5 separate regions of the Homo sapiens genome follow, and all the other regions are linked to region 2. The links come from fine-mapping of genetic effects on gene expression. A gene starts in region 2. Each other region holds a variant in brackets. All regions are shown on one strand. Distances are from middle to middle. Region 1 holds the start of LOC107987042 (phosphatidylinositol 4,5-bisphosphate 5-phosphatase A-like). Region 2 holds the start of KANK1 (KN motif and ankyrin repeat domains 1). Region 3 overlaps KANK1 (KN motif and ankyrin repeat domains 1). Region 4 has its middle 3.3 kb from the start of DOCK8-AS2. Region 5 overlaps KANK1 (KN motif and ankyrin repeat domains 1).

Evidence for each region.
Region 1: its variant is fine-mapped to the expression of KANK1 in fibroblasts (GTEx, PIP 0.96).
Region 3: its variant is fine-mapped to the expression of KANK1 in thyroid (GTEx, PIP 0.97).
Region 4: its variant is fine-mapped to the expression of KANK1 in whole blood (TOPMed, PIP 0.97).
Region 5: its variant is fine-mapped to the expression of KANK1 in whole blood (TOPMed, PIP 0.94).

What each region holds. Positions count from the first base shown.
Region 1 is chr9:709,998-715,100 of GRCh38, reverse strand. KANK1 (KN motif and ankyrin repeat domains 1) reads right to left here. Exons shown (of 12, transcript NM_015158.5): 3 at 1,637-4,297. It overlaps LOC107987042 (phosphatidylinositol 4,5-bisphosphate 5-phosphatase A-like), which reads left to right and starts at 4,459. Exons shown (of 1, transcript XM_017015393.3): 1 at 4,459-5,103. The variant C/G (reference allele first, on the strand shown) is at 2,964.
Region 2 is chr9:502,332-507,434 of GRCh38, reverse strand. It overlaps KANK1 (KN motif and ankyrin repeat domains 1), which reads right to left and starts at 2,740. Exons shown (of 12, transcript NM_015158.5): 1 at 2,681-2,740. It overlaps LOC105375947 (translation initiation factor IF-2-like), which reads left to right and starts at 1,882. Exons shown (of 4, transcript XM_047424276.1): 1 at 1,882-2,175; 2 at 2,266-2,496; 3 at 2,614-3,738. The coding sequence starts at 1,882. The coding sequence ends at 3,435. RefSeq lists a silencer at 2,615-3,104.
Region 3 is chr9:743,880-748,982 of GRCh38, reverse strand. It overlaps KANK1 (KN motif and ankyrin repeat domains 1), which reads right to left. Exons shown (of 12, transcript NM_015158.5): 11 at 4,394-4,492; 12 at 2,880-3,810. The coding sequence ends at 3,748. It overlaps LOC124902109 (a long non-coding RNA gene), which reads left to right. Exons shown (of 4, transcript XR_007061394.1): 4 at 1,514-1,734. Among named protein-coding and RNA genes, the nearest start is that of KANK1-AS1, 61 kb to the right of the region's middle. The variant AAGT/T (reference allele first, on the strand shown) is at 2,059.
Region 4 is chr9:470,917-476,010 of GRCh38, reverse strand. It overlaps a transcript of KANK1 not described here. Among named protein-coding and RNA genes, the nearest start is that of DOCK8-AS2, 3.3 kb to the right of the region's middle. The variant G/C (reference allele first, on the strand shown) is at 3,159.
Region 5 is chr9:606,875-611,977 of GRCh38, reverse strand. The region is part of intron 1 of KANK1 (KN motif and ankyrin repeat domains 1); the gene reads right to left. Among named protein-coding and RNA genes, the nearest start is that of KANK1-AS1, 76 kb to the left of the region's middle. The variant A/G (reference allele first, on the strand shown) is at 1,950.

The sequences.
Region 1 (5,103 bases), 210 kb before region 2:
CAATAATTCAGGTTTGAAAGTGGAAACCTAGGAAGATATAAAAATAATATATTTCAGTCTATTTTAATCATTGCCCCATCAGACACTAATAGAAAGACTGGAATTTCTGTGGATGGCTTAAGTCTGTATCACACATTTTCATGTAAAATTAATCTAATGCACACTCTTTCCCAGGTCACACTGATTCATGAGAATTGGAGAGCCAGAAACGGAAGCCAGGCAGTGTGGTCCTAAGCTGAGGATGATGTTATACACTGTGAGAGGCAGTGCACATGGTCACAAGCAAAATCAGGTTGGTAAGGCTCACAGGGAATTACTGTAAGCCATAAAATCATCCAGGGTGGCTTTCTGATTATTAGCTTCAATTTCAAGAAGGAAGAGTGAGCAGGAATCCCAATGAATACGAGAAAGAATAAGACAGACAAAAATGTAAGCGCCTATCGGGCCAGGTGTGGTGGCTCATGTCTGTAATCCCAGCACTTTGGGAGGCCGAGGTGGGTAGATCACCTGAGGTCAGGAGTTCAAGATCAGCCTGACCAATGTGGTGAAACCCTATCTCTACTAAAATACAAAAGTGGCTGGGCATAGTGGTGGGCACCTGTAGTCCCAGCTACTCAGGAGGTTGAGACACAAGAATCGCTTGTACCTGAGAGGCAGAGGTTGCAGTGAGCCGAGATGGCACCACCACCCTCCAGCCTGGGTGACAGAGCGACTCTGTCTCAAAAAAAAAAAAAAAAAATGAGTGGGAAAAGACTCCCTTCTCTCCAAGTTTGACCACCTCATCTCAAACAGCCCTCACCCTGACCACTACCACTCGCTGTTCCCATAACCGGAGTTAATTTCTTCACAGTATTTATCGCCTCCTGACATGTTATAGGTCTACTGTCTATATCCTGCACCCCACCTAGAATGTAAGCACCGCAGGGACAGGGGCTCTGTTCTGTTTTGTTCACACTATCTTCACAGCCTATAGCTTGAGACAGAGTAGGAATCCAAGTAATAATGATTTTTACTTCATATTTTTTTAGAAATGGAGGTCTTACTATGTTGCCCAGGCTGGTCTCAAATTTCTGGGCTCTAGCAATCCTCCCGCCTCAGCCTCTAGAGTAGCTGGGACTACGGATGTGTACCATTGCACCTGGCTCAAATTCAATAATTATTTGCTGAATTAAAGAATGAATTAATGGAGTCTCTCCTCTCATAAACGTTTTAACTGAAAACATTTTATGCCAGTATTTCAATTGCTAATATACTGGTAATAGTGGGTACAAACAGGGTAGGATTTTTTAAAGGCAGTTCTATAAATAATGAGCAAGTAAATAACTGAAAGACAAAGAATAAAGCATCTTACCAAACTAGCAGCCCCAGAAGACAACCTCTAGGCCAGCCAACACCAGTTTACTTTTCTTCCAGCGTTAGTCCTCAGCCAGAGGCCAGTGAGGCTACCAGATAATAAGCATCAGCAGAGGTGCTTATGGATTTTGATTCTTAGTTTTCATTCTACAGATTACCACTCTAAAACTTTCTCCATTTCTCCTCCAAAAATGGTTCCAGCAGTTAAAAAATAATCCTTAGCTTCTGGAAAGACATTTTCCCCCATCCTTCCTCATTCCCAGGTCCTCAGGGTACCACCTACCTGTGATTTTACCCAGACTGGTTTTCTGGAAGTCAGGGTTCCTCAGCTCTTCAGTGCTTGCAGATTTCATGACAGAGTTGATAGACGACAGGGTGCTGATGAGCTGAGAGTTGAGGGAGCCCATCTGTGAGTGAGGTTCCCCGAAAGCTTCTGCCAGTTCACTGTAGTTCTCAGCCAGCAGTGTCTGCTGTTCTGCCAGCAGCTTCTGGATACGCTCAATGTAGTGATCCAGGCCAGTCATCATTCCAAGTGGAGCTTGAGGCTGGGGGTTCTCCAGAGATTCCCCTACAGGGTCATCCCCAACCCCCACGCTCCTTCTGCTGGCTGTCAGCCCCACAGTCAACTGTGGTGGCCCACAAGCTATAGTCCTCATTTTGAGACCAACCAGATAGTTGTCGTTAATATTTATCTGCCCCACACCTGACTCTTTGGTCTTCACAGCTGATGGCCTGTCAAACCCAGAATGGCCAGAAAGCAACGTTCCAACACCAATGGACCGCGTCTTGGTGGAGGAGTTGATGTCCTTGACACGGCCTTCTCCTACAGCTACTGTCCGCGTCTCCACAGTCTGGGTGCTGGTCTGCTTGTCCAAAGTGCTTAGACAAGTGTTGGTGCAGGACTCTATGAGGGTGGCCGTCTCGGTGTTGGTGAACTGGTGCACCTGTTCCAAATCTGTGCTAGTGTCCTGGTCTGCAGTACGAGGCACTGCCATGACGGCAGCTTCCACCTGGCTAACAGCCTCAGTGTTCACGCCCCGGGAGGCGCACTCCTTTGGAGAGCAGACGGTCACGTCAACAGAACAATCTCCACAACCGATAGACCGCACTTCTTTGAGATTCAAGTTTGTCTTGAGGAGTGTGAGGTCGTTCACAGACTCCTCTGTGTTGCTGCCTGTTTCGCAGACGCTGACTTCCACACTCACACTCTTGTCACACATTTCCACAGACCTCCCAGCACATCGGTCATGCATTTCCACCCTCTCCTTAACAATCCACCAATTCATAGGCAGCTCAGGCCCTACGACTTTATTCTTACATTCAGGCTGGCAGGAGATGCCTACACTGTTTGTTTCCACGGAGGTCCCAACACACGTGTCCACCAGGTCCATGTGACTGCCGACCATTTGGTCTCTGGTCTGCACCACTGCCTCCACCACCTTACTGAAAACAAGCGGCTGGGCCATCGTGGCTTTGTCAACCTTTTTCCTCGATCCAGCAGCCTGCAGCTCTTGTTTCAGTTTAGTCATCTCCCGGTCATGGGTGGTTTCTCTAAGCTGTACTTCTAGGCGATAGATCTTTTCCTTCAAGGATTCTATGGTCTGCTGTTG[C/G]AGCTCAATTTCTTTGTCAGCTTCAGTCATCACTCCAAGCATGGCCTCTGTCACGCTGACCCCACAATTTCTCATCTCAACAAGTGTCCCTACAGCTGCATCCTTACAGGACCTGGAGCCTCTGTGGTACACGACGATGTCGTTCATGTTCTCCTCGGCACCCACAGCCACAGACCGGCACTCTCCATTCTCCCTGAGCTCTGAGGAGGCCTCACAGCTGCTGTCCTGGATCTTCTGCTCCAGGGCTTGCATGTCTGCTGTAAGTTGCCGGAACTCCTTTATCCTCTGCGTGCTCTGTTCTACGGTCTCCATTTCTTCCTCCTCATAGTCAATGTATAATTCCCCGCCACTTCTTCGGGCCCGGGAGAGCTGTTCCAGCTGGGAGGCGTTCCCCGCACTATAGGACCGCTTCCTCACACCACAGACATTGATCTGGGATGCAGCCCTTTGGTTTTTCAGCTGTGAGACCAACTGCCTTTTCTCTTCTTGCAAGACAGAGATCTTTACCTGGAGCACAGGGATGGTTCGCACCTGCTCCTCCAGCTCCTTCAGGCGTTTCAGAGCAATGGCCATCTGCTCGCGGATGTGCTGCAGGTGCATGGGGCTCACGTTGGTCACTGGGGTGGAGATCCCTGAGCTCAGGGGGCTGTGGCGGATGGAGCTCCCCATGGAGGAAGTGGTGGGAGCAGCTGGGGCATAGCTACCATAATCCCCATTACCTTGGTATCCATTCTGAAGCTGGTGCTTGGCAGGATTGTGGTTTCCAGAACCCACAAAAGAAGGGAGGGAGCTTGTGGTGCCCATGCCTCCAAAACTGGCCAGCCTGGGCCTTCTGAACTCACCCGGTGTCATCTGCATGGTGGCTCTCTCCTGTTCCAGTCTTCTCCGGGTCTCCATCAGTGTCTTGGTGACATGAAGGTTATGCTTTGGGAGTTGTGGTGAGGGAGGTGGCAGCTGTCGATTTTCTGGGATGGTAAGAAAAGGGAGTGAGGTCTCCAGAGGGGGAGGTGGCTTTGAGATTGGAGTTGATGTAACTTGACTTCTGGCTATGAGGAAGTTGGGGCACTGCTTGTTGTCATCACTGTTGGAGGATGAGAGGGATTCAGTGGAAGTCCATATACCTTGCTGACCAGATGTGGTCCTGGGTTCTGGGCATGGCACGGACGGCTTCCGCCTCTTCTGGATGTTCAGTCTTTTGATGGTATTTCCCTTCTGTATGTCATCCACATATTTGAGGAAATCTAAGTCTAGTTGATAACCATAGGGGGTCTCCACAAAGTAAGGGTCTTTCTGTTCCTTGTCCTGGTCTCCACTGAGAATATCACCTGCTTTTCCTAGAAGAGGGAGAAAAGAATATTATAATGACATGCAATACACCTAATGGTAAAAACTAATATTTGTGTTTGTTGCAGTACAGCAAGCTGGTATGATTTTAAGAGTTGACACACCTATGTTTTGAACCTGGATCTACAACAGCTGGGTAAGCAAGTTTTTTTTGTTTTTTTTTGTTTTTTTTTTTTTTGAGACAGGTCATTCTGTCACCCAGGCTGGAGCTGCAATGGCATGATCTCGGTTCACTGCAGCCTCCGTCTCCTGGGATCAAGCAATTCTCCTACCTCAGCCTCCTGAGTTGCTGGGATTACAGGGGTGCACCACCACGCCTGGCTAATTTTTACACTTTTAGTAGAGACAGGGTTTCACCATGTTGGCCAGGCTGGTCTCGAACTCCTGACCTTAGGTGATCCACCCAACCTGGCCTCCCAAAGTGCTGGGATTACAGGCGTGAGCCACTGCGCCCGGCTTGGGTAAGCAAGTTAATAAACCTCTCTTAACTTCAGTTTCTCCCTGAGTAAAAATGGAGATGCAAATATTTAACTCACAGGCTTAAAAACAATGTAATGAGATAATGATTGTATTATTTTTTAAAACTGTATGTTAGATTCAGGGAGTACATGTGCAGGCTTGTTACAAGGATATATTGTGTAATGATGAGCTTTGAGCTTCTAGTGTACACATCACCCAAATAGTGCACACCGTACTCAATAGGTAATTTTTCAACCCTCACTCCCCTCTTTCCCCACTTTTGTAGTCTAAAATGTCTACTATTTCCATCTTTTTCCATCTTTATGTCCATCAGTAC
Region 2 (5,103 bases):
CTGGCTGACAAGAGCAAAACTCCGTCGGCAGGGCTGGGGGTGTGGGATATGTATACCTATGGTACAGCTCATCTTGTTTTGAGAGAGGATATTGCTCGGTCATCTAGGCTGGAGTGCAGTGGCATGATCATAGTTCACTGCAGCCTCAAACTCCTGGGCTAAAGCAATCCTCCTGCCTCAGCCTCCCAAGTAGCTGGGACTACAGGTGCATGTGCCACCATATCCGGTTATTTTTTATTTTTTTTGTAGAGACGGAGTCTCGCTATGTCAATGTTCTAAATTACCAAAAAAAAAAAAAAAAGATGGCATAAGCTGTCACCCATGCAACAGGCCTAAAACTTCCCGAAACACTTGAAAACAAGTTGACTTTTCTTATTGAAGGGTGAGTGAGAAGTGTAGTGGATGTTGCATAATTTGGATAGCTTCAACTCTCCTTACTAAAAATGATTTTTAAAACATGCACACATTATCCAACAAAAAGCCCGAGTGAAGTGTCCAACTTTTCACAGACCCACTCTGCTCTTTCAGAATCTGCTCACCCTATAGTTATTCCATCTCAACAGTCCTCAGCTCCCACAAGCACTGCCCCTTTCGGCCATTATCCCATTCCTCTTCCCAGTTCCTTGCACTGCCCCCAACTAGATCCTTTTCCATCCTCCTCCTCCCACTTGGGATAAAAAGTTAATGTATGCACACATTAACTCAGAACTATTTGTGAACTGATACTCATGAAATGAAACTAGTCTTGAATGTATCAATTCCAGTGGCCATTTGCCTGTGGTTTTTTGGTTTCTTTCTTTGGGGCCAGTTTGGATATTTTAAAAAATTACTTTTAAGCCTAGTCTTTTTTCCTTCTAACATTCCCTGCCGAGCGCGCACGCACACGCACACACACACACACACACACCCAGAACTCACTTTCGCTGAGGCAGAACCTCGACTAGAGTGATTTATGGACTAGGCAAGTCTAGAGCCCAGAAAGCATCCCTGTGCCCTAAGGGGATAAAATGTATTCCCAACTTGTGGGTCTCTACAGGAGGCAATTATTCCTCTACTGGCAGCTTCTCTTCCATCCTTATTCATTTTAACCTCCCCATAGGACAGCCAATACTTAATTTTTCTTCCATTGCTTCAGCAGCACCTTTCCCCAAACCTAGTAACAGAAAAAGGATCAAAGTTAATCACCTCTCAGTTTTCTCACTCAGTCTCTATCTTAGAAAAACTTCCTAAGTAGCTGCCTTAAAATGAGGGAGAAGGGCTGGGAGATGGAAGAATGACTGCTAATCGGTATAGGGGTTCTTTTTGGGGGCAACGAAATGGAATCAGATGGTAGTGATGATTTCATAACTTTACGGATATATTAAAAACCACTGAATTTTGACCTTAGAAGAGTAAATTTATATGTTTATTACACTTCAATTTTTTTTAAATAAAACGTGCTCAACATTTTAGTAGAGAAAGTTGGATGAAAGGAGAAACTGGCAGATGAACAGCTACTTAGCTGTTAACGCCACCTAAAAATGAACTTGAATAAACTCAGGAATTCAATATAAGCAAACAGACCCTCATTTCCATTCAGCTCCAGAGGTGGGGGGCAATGACGGTGAGGAAAGGAACTGCACGATTACACATCTGGATGATTAAGCTTCCTTATTAGCCTCGGGTATCAGGGTCTAATAGAATCCACTATTTAATAAGATGGGCTGACCCTCCGCAGAGGCCACGTGCGGAAAGCGAGCGCTGGCGGACGCCATAAATTGTTAACGCCAACTCGCCCAAGGCCTTCACTAGGTCACGCTCGTGCAGCACGGCTCGTGCTGACCCGCAAGAGCCACCAAGAACAGTTGCCTCTGAAAGTTCCACGGGACCCGGGTGAAGGAGATGAACGGTCAAGGAGCCGTGGCTGCCGCGAGCGCCACTGCGTGTTGCCCAAAGCGGCACAGAAAACGCAACATTCGGGGACCAGCCCGCTTCAGGGCCCCTACACCTTCCCTCGACCTGGAACCGCGGGACCTCGGAAACCCACGCTGCCCGCGCCGGGTTGGGCCGCCCCAGAGGCCGCAGCGCCCACGCCCCTCCCCCGCCTCCCCGCCCTCCAGCCCCGGCCGAAGCCACCTCGGAGTTGGCGGAGGGCGACCCGAGGCCACCTGCCCCTCTGGGGCCGAGGATAAAGGGGTCTTGACCGCCACTCCCTCCCGCGAAGGGCAACATCCAACTCCACGGAGAGCCGCTTCAGAGAGGGTCCCCCGTTCCGCCCCGGGCTAGGGAAGGGCCCAGAGGCATCCGAGGGACAGAGCGCCGGGCCGGGGTAGCCAGGCGCCCGCACCCTCCCGCCGGCCGGCCCGGCCCGAACTTTCTCGCTGCTCCGTGCCCGGCGCGCCTCTCCCTCCTCCAGACCGGCCGAGCGCCGCCGCTGCAGAGCGCGCCAAACTCCGACGGCCGCGGGGCCGACGCCACCTCTCGGACCCCCCCCCAGGACCGCCCCGAGGCCGCCGGGTTCACCCGCACGAGCGGGAGCCCGCGGGGGCTGCCCTCCGCCACCGCCACGGCCGCCGCGCAACCCCGGCGCGCGCCAAGTCGGCTCCGCGCGGGGCCAGCCCGAGGCAGGGGTAGGGGCCTCGCGCTCCGGGACAACCTCGCCGCGGCACGGGGCGCGGCACGGCCCCGCCGCGTCACTCACCTTCGGCCGCTCCTCCCAACCTGCCGGCCGCTCGCTCGCTCCGCCGCGGACCCGGAGCTCGGGGAAGGGCGGGGCGCAGGGGGCGGAGTCGGCCCCGGCTGGCAAGCGCCAGAATTAAAGCCCGAACCGCACGGCCGCCGCCGGGGCGGGGAAGCCGGGGCGGACCAGCAAGCCTCTCACCCGCGGTGGGCGACAGCTGTGGCTGCGCCCCGGAGCGGCGCGTGAGAAGAACGGCGCGGGCCGGCGAAGCCCCGGCTGCTCCCTCCGCCCAGAGGACGCCCGGCTCCCCGCGGGGGCGCTCTTTGTACCGCGGAGCCGGCCGCGGGCGGCCCTCAGTGCGCCTGCGCGCCGCTGCAACTCCACCAGGCCCGCGGGGCACCTTCGTGCACCTTCGTCGCCGCGCCTGGCCCGCGGGCCTCGCCGCGGCGAGAACTAAGCAGAAGAACTTCCTCCACCGCGGTTCGCTCCTTCTGCCAACCCGTATTTACCACGTCCATCCTCGCACACACACCCGCAAGGGGAGAAGAAATCCAGCCCCCGTGAGACGGTGCGGTGCTCCCATCTCCGGCTGGGGCGGGGGTTCTGGCAACGAGGCTGGCCTGCTCGACGTCCTCCCCCAGCGCCTCTGTACCTCCTCTCCCTCCCCGGGTGAGGGGGACCGGAGCGTGCAGAGCTCTGTTTCCTGCAGGTGCCTCGTCAGCACGGTCGCCCCGGCGGCCAGAAACCTCCCGCCTCCAAGGGCACCTCCCTTGTGACCTCCGTGCATTCGCCCTGGCTCGGCTGCAGGACAGAGTCCTCGGCGGAAAGGGGAGGATGCGTGTTCAGAAGGTTGCAGGTCTCTGGGGACTCCACAGAAGACCCAACGCCTGCCTCGGGGGCTCAGGATTGAACTGGCTTCCTAGTTCAGTCCCAAATACTCGATTTGGAGCAATCCAGTAGGTCCATGAGAAATTAGTAGGGATTGAGAAGCTGTGACTTCAGTCTTTTTCAAATTGAAGGTGGCTTGAACAAACAGAAGAGGAGCTTGGGAACTGAAGGGACGACTTTATAAAAACCAGGTATTACTCAAAAAACAATGTTAGCTCTGCAGTCAACTGATTTTCTTAAGGGAGAGAGTCCTCCCCTCACCCCCAAGCTCTCTAGCACCGCACACATCCAGCAGGGCGTTACACACGCTCAGTCTTTTTTGTGAGTGTGCAAGTGAAGAGCCATCAAACTTCACAAGGCGACATGCTTGCCTCTGGGGAGAAGACGCTGCTTTTCCACAGTTCACAGCGAAGCACACCTGCAAATTCCTGAACTTGATGGCTCCTGACTGTTTAGGGAATAGGCAAAGGGCAGCCGGAAGATATGTGAAGGCAGGAAAGCTCATTTTGAATCTCAGCGCCTTTGCCAGCTCACTGGGTGGCAGTAAGCAAACTCTTTCCTCCTCCTGGGCCTTGCTTTTTCGTCTGTAGAGTAGGGCATTTGGATGCAGTAGATATTTTCTAAAATCCCCCACCACCACCACCCCGCCCCAAATGTCTACTCTTCTATGAAAAGGAGAATTGTTTGCATGGTGATAAGGGATGAGATATCAGAGGCAGGAAGACTCCTGCATTTTAAAAGTGCTCGTCGGCCAGGCGCAGTGGCTCAGGCCTATAATCCTCACACTTTGGGAGGCCGAGACAGGTAGATCAGTTGACCCCAGGAGTTCTGGGCAATACAGTGAAATTCTGTTTTCACCAAAAAAAAAAAAAAAAAAAAAAAAAAATCAGCTGGGCGCGATGGCGCGCGCCTGTAGTCCCAGCTACTCTGGAGGCTAAGGTAGGAGGATCGCCTGAGCCCTGGAGGTCGAGGCGGCAGTGAGCAGAGATTGAGCCACTGCATTCTAGTCCAGGCTACAGAGTGTGACCCTGTCTCAAAAATAAATAAATAAATAGTGCCCTCGACCGGGTGCACTGGCTCACACCTATAATCCCAGCACTTTGTGAGGCCGAGATGGGTGGATCACTTGAGGCCAGGAGTTCAACACCGGCCTGGCCAACATGGTGAAACCCCATGTCTACTAAAAAATACAAAAAAATTCGCTGGGCGTGGTGACGTGCACCTGTAATCCCAGCTACTCGGGAGGCTGAGGCAGGAGAATCCTTGAACCCGGGAAGCTGAGGTTGCAGTGAGCCGAGATCATGCCACTGCACTTTGGCCTGGGCGACAGAGCACGACTCTAAGAAAAAAAAAAAAAAAGTGCTCTCCATCCCCAGAATTCCCAGCCTTCACCTCTCCTTTATTTCTCCCTCTTTGCATTTAGTCAGTAAACATTGATAGGCCCTCAAGAGTAAGCAAAACGAATCAATCAAAAGTATGGCAGATTCTGAATTTTTAGTGGATTTATACTTGAAATTTCATTTTTAATTTAGTTATTTTATTGACATACAATTCAC
Region 3 (5,103 bases), 240 kb before region 2:
ACCATGTTGCCCAGGCTGATCTCAAATTCCTGAGCTCAGGTGATCTGCCTGCCTCGGCCTCCCAAAGTGCTGGGATTATGGGCCTGAGCCACCGTGTCCGACTGAAATTTGCATTTTCTACCTGCTCCCTCTGGAAATTCTTAAGTGTCTCGTGAAGGGAAGGCTTATACAAAATCATAAAAATGTAATTCTACTTGTAGCAAGTTCCCCCACAAAAGATCTAGCAGAATTTAAAGAAAGGTTATGTTTGGTCATTATTTCCTTTGAAGGAGAAATAGTTTTCTTATGTGATTCCATCTGCAAGGATTGTCAGATATCGGCAGTACTTCAGTAGTACAAAAATCAGGGATAATGTTGTTCTCCCAAGTATTAACTTACAAGGAAAGCGCTCAGAGCTTCATTTATTTTGGATACCAGAGCTAGATGAAGTGTTCCTAGTAAACGTCTCCAGAAGCACCCTTCCTCCCCCTTGGTGAGACATTTAGTTGTCAGTTTAGTCGTAATAGTGTCACGACAAGTTGCCAGTTTTTTTTTCCTTTGTTTGTTTGTTTTTTAAAGAGATGGGGGTCTCACTACATTGGCCAGGCTGGCCTCAAACTCCTGGATTCAAGCAATCCTCCCACCTCAGCCTTTGTCCCAGTAGCTGAGATTACAGGTGTGAACCACCACACCTGGCTTAGTTTTACTTTCTTAAGGTTAAACTCTCAAAAGTCCCACTGTTCCACTCCTGTTGTCTTGGGGTGGCTCCCAACTGTCCGTGGTTCAACTTCCAAGGCAAGGTTTCTGGGAAGCTGTCTTTTCATCACTTAAAGATTTAAACCTTCCTTTTTTTTTTTTTTTTTTTTTTCCGAGACAGGTTCTCACTCTATTACCCAGGCTGGAGTGCAGTGGCACAATCATGGCTTACTGTAGCCTCAACTTCCTGGGCCAAGGTGATTCTCCCATCTCAACCCCTAAGTAGCTGGCACTACAGTACATGCCACCACGCCCAGCTAATTTTTCTTTTGTAGAGATGAGATCTTGCTATATTGCCCAGGCTTGTCTCGAACTCCTGGACTCAAGTGATCTGCCTGACTGAGCCTCCCAAAGTGCTAAGATAATGGGTGTGAGCCACCACACCCACCTAGACTTCTCTTAAGCTGGAAAATAAGATCAGGAGTTGCCAACCCCATGCTGGTCTTACTTGGGAACCTTGCCCAAGCCTCCTGTCACAAATCCCTTTTATGGAGTTTGTGCCTCAATAAACTGCAGCTGTACCAATGGGCATAATCAGGCTTGTTTATATAGTATACCAGGATCCCAAGATAAAAGGCATTCTAAATGCCTAGTGTGATTAGAGCAAACAAGGTACCATCTAGCATTCATTACTTAGAGGTCAGATACATATCTTGTATCTGATAAAACAAGCACTCATTTTCTATTTCAAAATCTAGCATGAGAAATCAGAAGGGCAGCATGCAGACAGGGGGATTCATTTGCTCATTCATTTACATTCATGCCTTTCCTTTCTCAGATGGAACAAAGAAAATTCCCAGGCCCGGGAACCACCAGAGGTACTACCTTATTTGCTCAAAAGGTAGGTTATGCCCATAAGGGGCAGACCACGCATGGCTCTACCTCTCTCTCTCTCTCTACACACACACACACTCTCTCTCTCTCTCTCTCTCTCCTGCTTTTATTGTGCCATTTTGGATCTGTAGGAACTTGGGCTTGAAGAGCTACATGATCTGAAATTCAGCATGTATCAGCTAGTAGGTTTAGGTTATGTCCCGAGAGGGATGTGCCTCCAGGTGGCTGTGACCTCACTTTCACAGTTCATGCAGAGGAAAGTCATCCTTGTGGTCCTGGGAGAGCTGGTCTGTTGCTGCCCAGGTTTGCCTGCACTGCCAGCATGGCTCTCACAGCCCCCCAAATTGTTTTCCTCTGAAAGGTTCAAATCTTGACTCTGAAACAGACCTCATAATGAAACACCTATGGGAAAAGTCTATTCTCTGGCCTCTTTCCTGAGCTCAATAATGTTTAATTTTTAAAAGCGGGGGAGGGAGGGAGGGAAAGAAG[AAGT/T]CTCTGATATTTCTCCAGTGCACTTGGCTCTCATAGATGGCCTTGGCCAAAACTCACCACCAGCGATTGTGCCAGAACACCTGGTTTGAATTCTGGCTGCCATGCTGCTTCATTTAATGAGATGGTCCCAACTTACTTTACTATTTAAAAAGAATTTGAGGCCAGATGCAGTGGCTCATGCTTTTAATCTCAGCACTTTAGGAGGCCGAGGTGGGCTGATCATGAGGTCAGGAGATCGAGACCATTCTGGCCAACACGATGAAACCCTGTCTCTACTAAAAATACAAAAAATTAGCCGGGCGTGGTGGCGGGCGCCTGTAGTCCCAGCTACTTGGGAGGTTGAGGCAGGAGAATGGCGTGAACCCAGGAAGTGGAGCTTGCAGTGAGCCAAGATCATGCTACTGCACTCCAGCCTGGGCAACAGAGTGAGACTCCATTCTCAAAAAAAAAAAAAAAAAAAAAGTGTCCGGCTTCATCTCTCCTTTCTTGTCACTACACGTATCACCTAGTCACCCAGCAGTTGTACTCAGAGTCAAGGACTAGTGCTTCTGCACCTGAGAAGAAGCATCTCCGGCTACCCATCGGAAGAGCGCTTTGTCTAAGGAGGCCTCAAACTTCAGCCTCCCGACTTGCAATCTGAGTCAGGAGCCAAGCTGTGCAAGTGGACAAGCGCCCTCGGAAGATGCTGTCTCCCTGTCGGAGCCAACTGGCGCACTCACCCTCCCTGCTCAGCTCAATCCATCAGCGTGTGCTGCCACTGCCGTAAGTCAATCGGCTCGGGGCGGACAGCTATCAGAGATGAAACAGGGACAAGGAAAAGAGCTTAATGGAATTTTATTTTGAAAATATGGCAAGAGTCTAAGGCACTTCAAACATTTAAATACATAGAGGACCAAAGTAAATGTGACACGGTAAAAAGGAATCCATAAATACAAAGAGAACACTGTGTTTCTCTAGAGGCAAATACAGAGCCGATTCCTCTAACACAATCCAACCTTTAGCATTGGAGTTGTGCAATTAATACAAATGATGATGTTACGTGTAGTTCTTCATGGCTTTAGTATGGAATACAAAAGCTGAAAATACTGTGTCAAGTTCATATAGATACCCTTTTTATAAAAAGTCATATATTACATCTACCTAGTTAAGACCAAATGAGAATATTCTTTTGTAAGTTTTATACTTTGTCTGGCCCAGGCCCAAGTTACCAATGATCAAAGTCATCTCGACTTCCTTATTTTAAAATAAGACAAAAGAAAAATCCAAAACTATGCTGGAATGAGATTTTGGAAGAACTTTCTAATGGTTCCACATTTAGTACATATAAATATTTGTGGAAAAATCTTAAAACGTCTCAGTGAGAACCAGACACCACTTTGTGGGAGTGAACAGAAGGTGCCCCTTCAGATCAGAATTCCCTGTGACTGTACAAAACGGAGCAGAGACTCAACAGCAACAGAGACTGGGTTAAAGTGTGCCCTACACAGAAGACGGCCAGAAAGGAGGTGTGTGTGCCCAGGCTAGCAGTCTCTGCACTGTGAAAGCTTCAGCCTTTACCCCTGGGCTTGATGCTTCTGTTTGCTGGTGAGCTCAGGCACAATACGTATACATTCAGTATCTGTCACCCCAACAGGAACAATTAGCAGCTTAATAGTGGCATGTAAATAAAGGGCTATTTGCATACAATCAATCAAATGAACCTCGGTGGGTGGGGCCAGGAGACGTCTTCCTTCCAAGCCTAGGGGTGCCCTAGAGACCAGGAAAGGAAAAAAACTGGGGGTTAATAAGTGACCTCAGGCAGATGTGTACCCTGTGACATAGGATCTTGGCCCACCACAGGCAACAAGCAGCTGTGAGCCCGAGCCAGGAGAGCTCTGGCTGAGAACAGGGAACAGGTGTCCACAGCTCCAAGGCCAGCTGGGCTCAGCAGTGCTATGTCCGGCTGTCCTGGGAAGTCACCTTCCCACTCAGAGTGAACTGTGGACTACAGGCTGCCTGCCATCTGCTTCAGGAACAATGCCAGAACCATGGCGAAATATCCCCATGGGCTCAGGGGCTGCTATCTGGATAATTCTGCACAGAATCAAAACCTCTATGGGAAGCTGTGAGCATATGTCTTGCAAGGACAAGCAAGGTCCAGCCTCTGCTAAAACATTAGTTCTCCTGCTTTTTGCGGGGTGGAGGCGGAAAGGATGAACTCTTAAGCTCCAGACTAAAACTTCCATTTTCTGAATCAACATAAAATCTGTCTCCCGTCAATTCCTGGAGGAAGGGGGTCCACCAGTCTGGTGGATTTCAGCCTATTTACAAATGCCAAATGCACAACACTGACCGGAGACTGGGCTTTTGCAAAGTTGACATGGGCATACAGAAGAACAGCGATGTCCTTGTGTCCTGCTTCCAGGGCGATTGAGAGCGCAGTGCTGCCATCCTTAAGATAAGATGGAAAGAACAAGCCATGTTGGGTTTCTCAAACCTCCAGACAACCGAAAGGTAACAGAACAAAACACCCTCCAATAATTGGCAAGGTTCCCCAAATATCCCTACTCGTTCGGTCTTCTGGGAAACTTTTTTGGGACCTCTAAGGGTGAAGGCCTGAGGATGTGAAGATGAATGAGGCAAGCCTCCACCCTCCAGAGGTCCCAGTTAAGAGGATTATCTTACTCAACCATTCTGCCCACCAGGAGGGGGAAGCAGAAGATGGGGATAGAAAGTTTTTTTTTCTTCTAATTAATTATGAATGACCAGGCAAGCAGCAGTAGTGTGTGTTTAGAGACTCTGCAATTTGCCAAAGATCTTTTACCTTTCCTCTTAGAGAGGGCACTGTGATCCTAAAACCCTAAACCACCTCGGTTTAAGGCTACAAGTAACATCTGTGTGTAAGCACGCAATCCCAGTGGGTTGCACAGATCCAACTTCTGGAAATAAGAGGGGAAACACTACATATGGGTGAAAAAAGCTTCACTTAACTGCTTGATTTCCATTAAATTTCAGGGATTTAAATGGATATAAAGGAGTATCAAGGGAAAGAACAACACAACT
Region 4 (5,094 bases), 31 kb after region 2:
TGTGGTGGCAGGCACCTGTAATCCCAGCTACTCGGGAGGCTGAGGTAGGAGAATGGCTTGAACCCAGGAGGCAGAGGTTGCAGTGAGCTGAGATGGCGACGCTACACTCCAGCCTGGGCAACAGAGTGAGACTCTGTTTCAAAAATAAATAAATAAATAAATAATTTTAAAAAGGTGCTAGACTCTTAATCTCTTCAGATGGGAGCGCCTGGAAGAAAAATATCTAGCTATGTTAACAGAGATTCTTTACAGATGCAAATTTTCCCCTACAAAGGATGGCTTTGCAGGGCCATTTCAAAATATGCCAAAGAGACATGTTATGGGATAAAATATTTTGATTTTGTCATGTAATATTATGCCAGAGTCAGACTAAAAAGTCACAATATATAGGGTTAAATAAAACCCATCTGATGAGAATTTTTGGTTTGTAGGGCATAACTCCCCAGACCCCCTAGATAGGAATTTGGAAGATAAGAAAAGATCAGAGCTTAGTCCTCAAGCAGGAGTGAAAATTTATTAAAAAGCTTCAGAGCAGGAATGAAAGGAAGTAGAGTATATTTGGAAGAGGGCCGAGTGGGCACCTTGTGAGATCAAGTGCACAGTTTGACCTTTGACTTGCGGTCTTACAGGTTGGCATACTTTCGGGGTCTTGGGTTACTTCTCCCAATTCTTCCCTTGGGGTGGGCTGTCCATATGTGCAGTGGCCTGCTAGCATTTGGGAGGGGAGCATGCACAGTGTATTTGCTGGAATGGTACAGATGCTTTCTTGAGGCTTTCTTCCCTTACCAGCGTAGCATTCCTACAGGAAGGTCATTTACCAATTAAACTCCGCCACTTTGCCTCTTAGTGCACATGCTTGAGCCCACCTGCCCAATTCCTGAGATCTTATTGTGAAGCTGCTGATTGTCACTTTCAGGTTTTTCCTATCTATTTGGAGACTGCCTTTCCCTGGTGCTGGCTGCAACCAGTTATTATTTGAGAGAGACGGTGTAACAACCATGTGACCATCACCTGATGGTCACCTGACATTCCTGGTCAGGGTGGGGGGCCCTCTCCTGCACTGCACATGTCTGCCTATCTACTGTAACAAGTACACCATCAGATGATTGCTAAGGTTTCTCCCAGTGTGAGGAGTCCTGAGAAAATGGTATTCTCAGAGATACTGAAGTGTCCTCAGGGAAAGTCTAGATGGCCTAGACAGCTTGTGGTGCTCCATTGTCACCCTGCCACCAATGTCTCCCTGCCTTTTCTCATCCTCTGATCTCCCCCTGCTCAACCCCATTTCAGGGGAGGAGGGAAGAAATATAGAAAAGATAATGAGGGAAAGTGGCCATGGGTAGTGAGAGGATGATGAAGTGGTAGATAATGGGAGAGTGGAGGGAAGGCATAGAAATTACACACATATACTTTTTTAGAGAAACGACACAGGGAAAAGATAGGGGGCATCAAAGAAAGAACATTTGCCTTCTTTTGTTCATCAAATAAAATAATCGCTGACATTTATTGAGCCCTTGTCCTAGGCCTGGCACCTTGTTCAGTTTTTCACATGCATCATTTCATTTAGCCCTCATACATCTCATTTTATAGATAAGTGAGAAACATACTTATGCAATTAATCAATATGTCCAATATCACTAATTAGTAAGAGACAGGACAAGGCATTGAACTTCAGCATCTTTGACCCCTGAGCTTGTACTTATAAATACTAGTCCATATGGCTTTCCTACCAGCATTTCCTCTGAGCCAGGGAATGTCACTATTTTCCTTATGGCCAACAGCATTTAGACTCAATGTCATTGCTGACCTACAGTGATGTGTTCATCACCATGGGCAGACAGATAGGCAGGTACCTATCCATACACTCACTCACCCACTGATGACACTCAGGAAGGCTTGGTAAAGACAAGTAAAGCCAATGAATATTATAAATAGATAGTATTTCTTGTGAGGAGCCATCATGTGGGGAAAGCTTCTTCATTAACTCTGGCTGAGTCTAATGTTGAAATTAATTCTTGGCTGGCACACTGGCTCACACCTATAATCCCAGAACTTTGGGAGGCCGAGGTGGGCAGATCACAAGGTCAAGAGATCGAGACCATCCTGGCCAACATGGTGAAACCCTGTCTCTACTAAAAATACAAAAATTAGCTAGGTGTGGTGGCACATGCCTGCAGTCCCAGCTACTCAGGAGGCTGAGGCAGGAGAATCACTTGAACCATGGAGGCAGAGGTTGCAGTGAGCTGAGATTGTGCCACTGCATTCCACCCTGGTGACAGAGAGAGACTCTGTCTCAAAAAAAAAAAAAAAATTCTTGTTCTTTCTGGGTGCAAGATAGTTCCTGAACACATACCCAGATGATCACAGGTGCCTGTGGTTTGTTGGGGGATGATATACACTAAAATAAGTGGTGAATACCCATAGCTAACCATAGCAAATTTTCTCAGTATTATACCTATCAGAAAACCCAAGTAAGCCTCATTGTAGGATAACTCTAGGTGACCCTCTAGGGATTATGGTTGATGATCACAGAGCTGTGATGTCATGATGTCCCATTAGGGGTCTTTCACCTGGTTATCATTTCTCTGCCTGATACTTCAACTGCAAATTTATGAGGAAATTTAGGAAAGACTGAATCAGACCCCTATCCAATAGTCTCCAAGCTGTGTGCACTTTCCTTGGATTTTCCTCTGTTTCAATGCAGGGATATTACATGGGTTTTGGAATCAGTCAGACTCACGTTCAAATTCTGTCTCTGCTATTTACTGAGTGAGGAGCAGTGGTACGAATCCCTTGTCCTTGGAACTGCTGTATTCTCTCCTGTAGAAAGGAATTATGAAAGGTGTTGTGAGGATCAGGTGAGCTGGCACATGCAATGCACCAACACAGGGCCTGGAATATGGTGGGTGACCACTCACTGCAAACTCTTATTCTTCATGCTTCAGTTACCTATTGCTATATAAAATCTCAACCCAGGCCTTAGCGGCCCCCATGACTATACCCGTTTGTCATGAAGAGCTTTAGTGAGCTTTACTTGAATAACAACCGTTTGTTTGCTCATAGTTTTGTAATCTGAGCTGGGTTCTTCTACTGGTCTCACCTAGGGTAGTTCATGCTCTCATGCTGACCATTAGGAGGCTGAATTGGGGCCAGAAATCCAA[G/C]ATAGCATCACTCATGTATCAGGAAGCCTGGCTGTCATGCCTGCACCAGCTCGGATCAAGCCTCTGCTTGGTATAGGGCTCTGTTGTCACCGCCTTAAAATTCGGAATAATTTTAAAACAAGGAAACCTGCATTTCCTTTTACACTAATCCCTGCAAATTGTGTAACCAGTCCTTGCAGCTGGATCTCTTTCTATACTAGCTCAGGGCTCCAAGGGAGTGAAAGCAAAAGCTGGCAGGCTTAAGACCAAGGCTAGAACTTGTACAGTATCACTTTGCCGCATTCTATGGGCCAAAGTAATTCACAAGGCCATGCCTGATTCAAGAGGAGGAGTGGGAAAATCTTTATGGCCTACACTTGACCTCCATTTCCTACTTTCAGCATTTGCAGCAACTGGGTCAGCAACTGGGTCCTGAGAGAGCTCTTCTGGTGCTAAGAAGCAGACACCTCCCCAAGTGACCTCACAAAAAGAGGAATATATGGCAGAGGGTTGGAAATCTCTCAGAAATGAGGCATAACCCCATCTTAGGAAAGTGGAAAGAGTTAGAAACTCAGAGTCTGAGGCTACGCCTTGCTTCTCAGTGGTGACATTGACTTCCTTGGTCAGTCATGGCTTGAGGGGAGGTCAGGGAAACTGGTCACTCAGAAGAGACAACTGCCCCTTACAGAGACTGTGGGCAGGCCAGCTCTCTATAAGAGGCTGTGAATAAGGTAGGGTGTATTCCCTGATAGAAAAGTTTTTTTATCAGCCATTTATGAAGCACCAATAATTATATGTAAGAGTGTTTTGGCGTATGGGGATGTGACTCTGGGAGAGCAGGGCTCTTTTTTGTCAGTCACATAAGGGTATATCTCTTTAATTGAAGTTGGGGTTGGGGGCAGGGGAATAATCGGAGGTTTATTCTTACTGTCCTTGTGCTCGGGGAGTCAGCCGCAGTCCCTGGTGACCGGCTCACATATCCTCATGTGGCTAGCAACACCCACCTACCATGGCAGTACAGGAGAACGCTTAACTCACTGTAATCTCCAATGCCTAAGTGCAAACGATTCTCTCGCCTCAGCCTCCGAAGTAGCTAGGACTACAAGTATGCACCACCATGCCTGGCTAATTTCTTTTACAGAGATGGAGGTCTTGCTATGTTGCCTAGGTTTCGAACCCCTGGCCTCAATCAAGCCTCCCACTTTGGCCTCCCAGAACCCTGGGATTGCAGGGGTGAGCCACCGCATCTGGCAGAGAATGCATTCTTTTACAAAAATGCCAACTCACCTCAAAGAAAAGTTGAGTGAAGAAGGATGAGAAATTGTGACTTTATCTTATTTACTTTGGTCCTGCTCCAAGGAAGATGACAGACTGAGGCCCGCATAAGGAGGGAGTCCCACATGGACTTGGGAGTGTCATCACCATCTCCTTGGGGCATGCAGAGAGCGGTCACCATCTCTTGACCTCTCTCCTCAGCATGCTCCCCACTTCCCTACTCTACTTCCTTGTGGTTTCCTTCCTTTGTGCCCTCAGTCTAGTGTCCTTACCCCTGTCCTGGAGACCCCATCTCTTTTCTCCAGTACATAGTGCCCCTCCTCGGTCCCTTCCTGCACATTCCACTCAGCTGGCACTATCGCTTTCCTTGGCCCAGCTTCGCCAGCTCTGAAAAAGCAAGGGGTGAGGTGCAGTCCATCAGATGGAAGAGATGATATAATTGATGATCAGATCCAGGGCAGGTGCCCAGCAGTAACAACTGTGGCAAATTTCTACATAAGCTAGCTGAGAAACAAGCTAATAGAATGAGCTTATTTCCCAGTGACAATGCAATCTAGTGTTCTATGACCGGCTCCTTGCAAAACAATAACCCTGGCATTATGACAAGATTCACATTAACTGTGCAGGGCCCTGTCTTGACTACCCAGGTGGCTAGCACCTACTTGGATAAGAATGTCCTGAG
Region 5 (5,103 bases), 100 kb before region 2:
GGGAGGCCGAGACTGGCGGATCACAAGGTCAGGAGATCGAGACCATCCTGGCTAACACGGTGAAACCCCATCTCTACTAAACATACAAAAAATTAGCCGGGTGTGGTGGCATGCGCCTGTAATCCCAGCTACTCAGGAGGCTGAGGCAGGAAAATCGGTTGAACCCGGGAGGCGGAGGTTGCAGTGAGCTGAGACTGCACCGCTGCACTCCAGCCTGGGCAACAGAGAAAGACTTTGTCTCCAAAAAAAAGAGTTAGATGGTCAAGGTGATGAAGATTACAAAAATATTACTGGGAAGATAAACTATCAAAAATGCCTGCAAAATAGAATGACACTGTCATTTGACAGTCAGATAATTAGTGTCAAAGGTTCTGAATTTTAGACACACTCCTATCTAATGGGATCGACATACCTATGTTATTAAGAAGTGAAGTGAAATGTAACTTCCTCAGTGGCTTGTTTGGATTCAGCTTCTGTGCAAGGAGCAGGCACTAAGACACATCTGAAAAGCATGAGAGACAGAGGACATGGGCCTTAAGGTTTTTATTCCAAGTTCAATCATTACTTGAGTCCTGTACTTTTTTCTATGTCCTACACTGAATCCTGGAGATAAGTGTAGTCATCCAAGCTTACACATTGGAAATTAAGGCATAGAGTCGGTGAGGAACTGGCCCCGTGGGCTGGGCTCTTGGTTCAGTGACAATTGTCTGTGACTTACTAAAAGATTCTTTAGTTTGCCTGTTGTTTTTAGTAGAAAGCTGTGGGCTGGACCCAATACTAACAAATGGAACTCAGGGGGCTGACAGCGACATCTCTGAAGGCCAAAAAACCTCCTCACATGTCAAGCCAACCGTCCCTTCAGGTCTTGGGGATGGAGATAGGGCTGGCAGGTGGAGTGATAAGGTAACCTAATTATAATAATGCCAGAGTAATAAAGTGAGTGACAACATAAAGGATACAGAAGATGCCTTCTGTCAGAGACAAAGAATTCAAAAACAATCAAATAAAACCACCAAACAGGAGAATACCATTTCATTCTTCTTCTACGGGACTGGGGACGATGTTAACCATTTATAAACAGCACTCTTGCGTACTGGCCTCTTTCCCTTTGCCCAGTCTCAGTTCCCAGAAAAATAACCACAAACATGATCTCTGCCTCTGGGTCTAGAAGATGAAATCAAGTCTCAAAGATACTCAGGTCACAGATGTGCAAGTCTAAAGCTGTCTCAACTAACCCTCCGAGCTTTCCAAGGCTAGCTATGCCTCCAGTTCCTGGAATGTACAATTCTTCTCTTATCTACAAGGATTCTTCAATGGCCCTTAAACCCAGGAAAGCTGGAAACTGCAGGTTGTAGCCATGTCTTGATCAGAGTCAAGGGGGCATGGACATCATTTAACATTACCTGACGCAGCAGAGGGTACTCGGTCAAACCAGCTGCTATATTAAACCAACACTGGACACCTCTATGGCTTATCCACAGAGGGAACTGTCAGGATTCTATTTCTTAAATCATGTATCTAAACCAGTACTTTATTTTTTCACCCATATAGTACACCATTATCACTTCCATATCACTCAATTCTTCAGGACTATCTTTTCTCATTATATATAACATTTGCTTAAGGTCTCATCATGGTTCACTTTGGAGAGCAGGACTGAAGTTCAGTGAGAATGTTTTTTCATCTTATATACTTCTAATATTCTAATTTATTAGGATAATTGTGTTACTTTTGTAAAGAGTTTTTGATAAACGTAAGTGTTCAACCAAATTAAAATGTATTCATACCTTTAATCTAGTTATTCCTGTGAACTTATCGCAAGGAAGTAACTTATTATGGCCTGAAGATTTCACTGCAATGATACTTAAAGTAGCAAAGAATTAGACACGATCTAAATTTTAAACATGAGAAAGTCAGTTTTATAAATTATTGTACATTAATGTAACAGT[A/G]TTTATCATTATAATTGTAAAGGCTTCATAAATGAGTGGAAAGTCCTGACACCTCAAGTAAAACAAGCATTCCAAATAAAAATCAAACCACATAAATATATGTATAAGAAAGATAAAAACATTTCTATGTGAGAGTGGTACAATTCTACGTAATTTGAAATTTTAAAAATTTTCTTTAGTGAATAAATATAAAATACTTACTAGAAAGTAGCCTGAGAAAAAATAATTTTGCCATAGTTCCAAACTATGATATTAACCAAATTAAGATACTTCTCCTTTATTTAGAATTAACTTTAAAGGGAATAAAAGAAGTACCAATAGATTAAAAGGCAAAATATGTTAGCAGGATCAATGTCTATTGAGTCTATTCATTATTTTATTTTATTTATTTATTTTTTGGGACAGCGTCTCACTCTTGTCACCCAGGCTGGAGTACAGTGGAGCGATCTCAGCTCATTGCAACCTCCACCTCCTGGGGTTCAAATGATTCTCCTGTCTCAGCCCTTTGAGTAGCCGGGACTAAGGGTGCACGCCACCACACCCAGCTAATTTTTTGTATTTTTAGTAGAGATGGGGTTTCACCATGTTGGCCAGGCTGGTTTTGAACTCCTGACCTCAGGTGATCCGCCCTCCTCGGCCTCCCAAAGTGCTGGGATTACAGGCGTGAGCCACGATGCCCAGCCTATTGATTCTATTTAAAAAGGACTTGTAGCTAGCAATAAAGTTTAAGGAATTCCCAAAGAACTGTTAAGCAAATCTATTTAATTTACAAACAATAAACTTATAAAATGTTTTCTAAATTAAAATAATATAGTGGCATTATAAAAACACCACTGCAATTAGCAGTTTAATAATGTGGTAAATAATACTAGGTAAAGCCAATTGCTATTTATGGACAATCTTTTTTTTTTTCAGCCAGCTTTCTGAAGGGTTAGGGGTCAAGTCTTCTTCCCTTTGAGTTCTGAGAACATGAAGATTTTCAACGATCTTGCAGGAGTTCAAGTCCCAAAGGGTAACTGAACAAGGAAGGATATCAGCAGTGACCCCGAAAGCTAACAACAAGCGTGAGTATACGCCCATGTGTTATTTCCCATGCTTCCATCCAAGAAAATGCTCTATTGAAGCAATGTGTATGAATGCATCTATTATGCATGTCACCATGGCCTTATCCCACTCAGTCTCAACATTGGCTTAGTTCACCTCCCTTGGAAACACTCTGGACCATCAACTGGGGTGGAGGTTGTTAAGTAACTCTGTGAGTTGCCTTCATCTAGGTAGCTCTTCAGGTGTGGTTCGTCAGCCACACCCTAATAACTGACAACCTTTGTGAACAATTTTTCAATTCTGTTTATCTCCCTGACTTGATGAAAGACAGACTGACCAAATCAGTCAGTCGTGATGATGTCCTGATGATGGCATTCCTCCCGAAGTGACTAGAGAGAGAGCCCACTCTTGTAAACTTCAACTACCTTGACAGTTCCCACATGTAAATGCCCTAAAGTCAATCATCTTCATCTCACATGCTCTGAAACAATGATCTTTTCTTATAGGTAACATTGGCCAACATTAGATATAAAGAATTTTTAAAAAATGATTTCTTTTAGCTCTTTAAGAGAATACACAAATATTGATAAAGGAGAGTTGGTCTATGGTCACGTAGAATGTGCTATACAACAAATGAAACTTATTGTTATAATTCTGAAAGTTTTCACGCCTGTAATCCCAGCACTTTGGGAGGCCGAGGCGGGTGGATCATGAGGTCAGGAGATCGAGACCATCCTGGCTAACAAGGTGAAACCCCGTCTCTACTAAAAATACAAAAAATTAGCCGGGCGCGGTGGCGGGCGCCTGTAGTCCCAGCTACTCGGGAGGCTGAGGCAGGAGAATGGCGTGAACCCGGGAAGCGGAGCTTGCAGTGAGCCGAGATTGCGCCACTGCAGTCCGCAGTCCGGCCTGGGCGACAGAGCGAGACTCCGTCTCAAAAAAAAAAAAAATAATAATAATAATAATAATAATTCTGAAAGTTTTTTAGTCTTTCCTTCAAAGATTCCATGGTACTAGATAAATTATACACATACACACACACAGAGAGATGTTCACAAGGAAAAATGAACATTACAATACAACCAGGTAAAGGTACCAAGAACATGAAAGGAGGTTGCTAAGGTGCTTCCAAAAGATTGGCCTAATTTTACCACCACATCCATTTCGGCGCTTTTTTTCTTTGCCTAAAATCGTTACCACACCATATTATTTCCTCCCAGCATAGTAAGTTAGGAGAACAAGGAAATGGGAAGAAACTACAGAGGTTCTTACAGCCCTGCCAGCAAAGTTTCCTAGCACTCTGCTGCTGGGCTGGGTGAAGAGAACAAGGCTAGCCGTCCTGGACTGGGTGAGGCACATGTGCAGGTATGTGCAGCTAGTCCTGGACTTGGGCAGGAGCAGGAATCTGCACAAGAACCAACAAGCCCACAGGAGAGGTACTCAACTGAAACAGTGTTTAACAAGCATAGCCATCTCCTTTTTTTTTTTTTTTTTTTTTTTGAGATGGAGTCTTGCTGTAACGCCCAGGCTGGAGTGCAATGGCACGATCTTGGCTCACTGCAACCTCTGCTTCCCGGATTCAAGCGATTCTCCTGCCTCACCGTCCCAAATAGCTGGGACTACAGGTGTGCGTCGCCACACCAGCTAATTTTTGTATTTATAGTAGAGACGGGTTCTCACCATATTGGCCAGGCTGGTCTTGAACTTCTGACCTCAAGTGATCCACCCGCCTTGGCCTCCCAAAATGCTGGGATTACAGGCATAAGTCACTGCCCCTTGCTAACCATCTGCTTTCAAGTGGATTTTGATATGCCAAAGTTTACCTTAGTGCCACTCTGAATGACCTAACAAGCATGCAAAGGAATTGAGGAAGGTGAAAGAGAGTGACACTGTATTAATTACTAGTCTAAGACCCTGTTTTAAAGAATAACCCAAGAAAACATAAAATTAGAATTCAAGTCCCAGTCCCACAGTTTTCCGTGGGCATAAAATACTTAAAAAAATAAAAATGTGAACGGGCAACTACACTTCACTAGTTTCCTCTTAGTTTTTAAGCCAACTCAGTAGCCTGCCTTATCTCATTCTAAACCTTCTGAGAGCAGGGACTTTG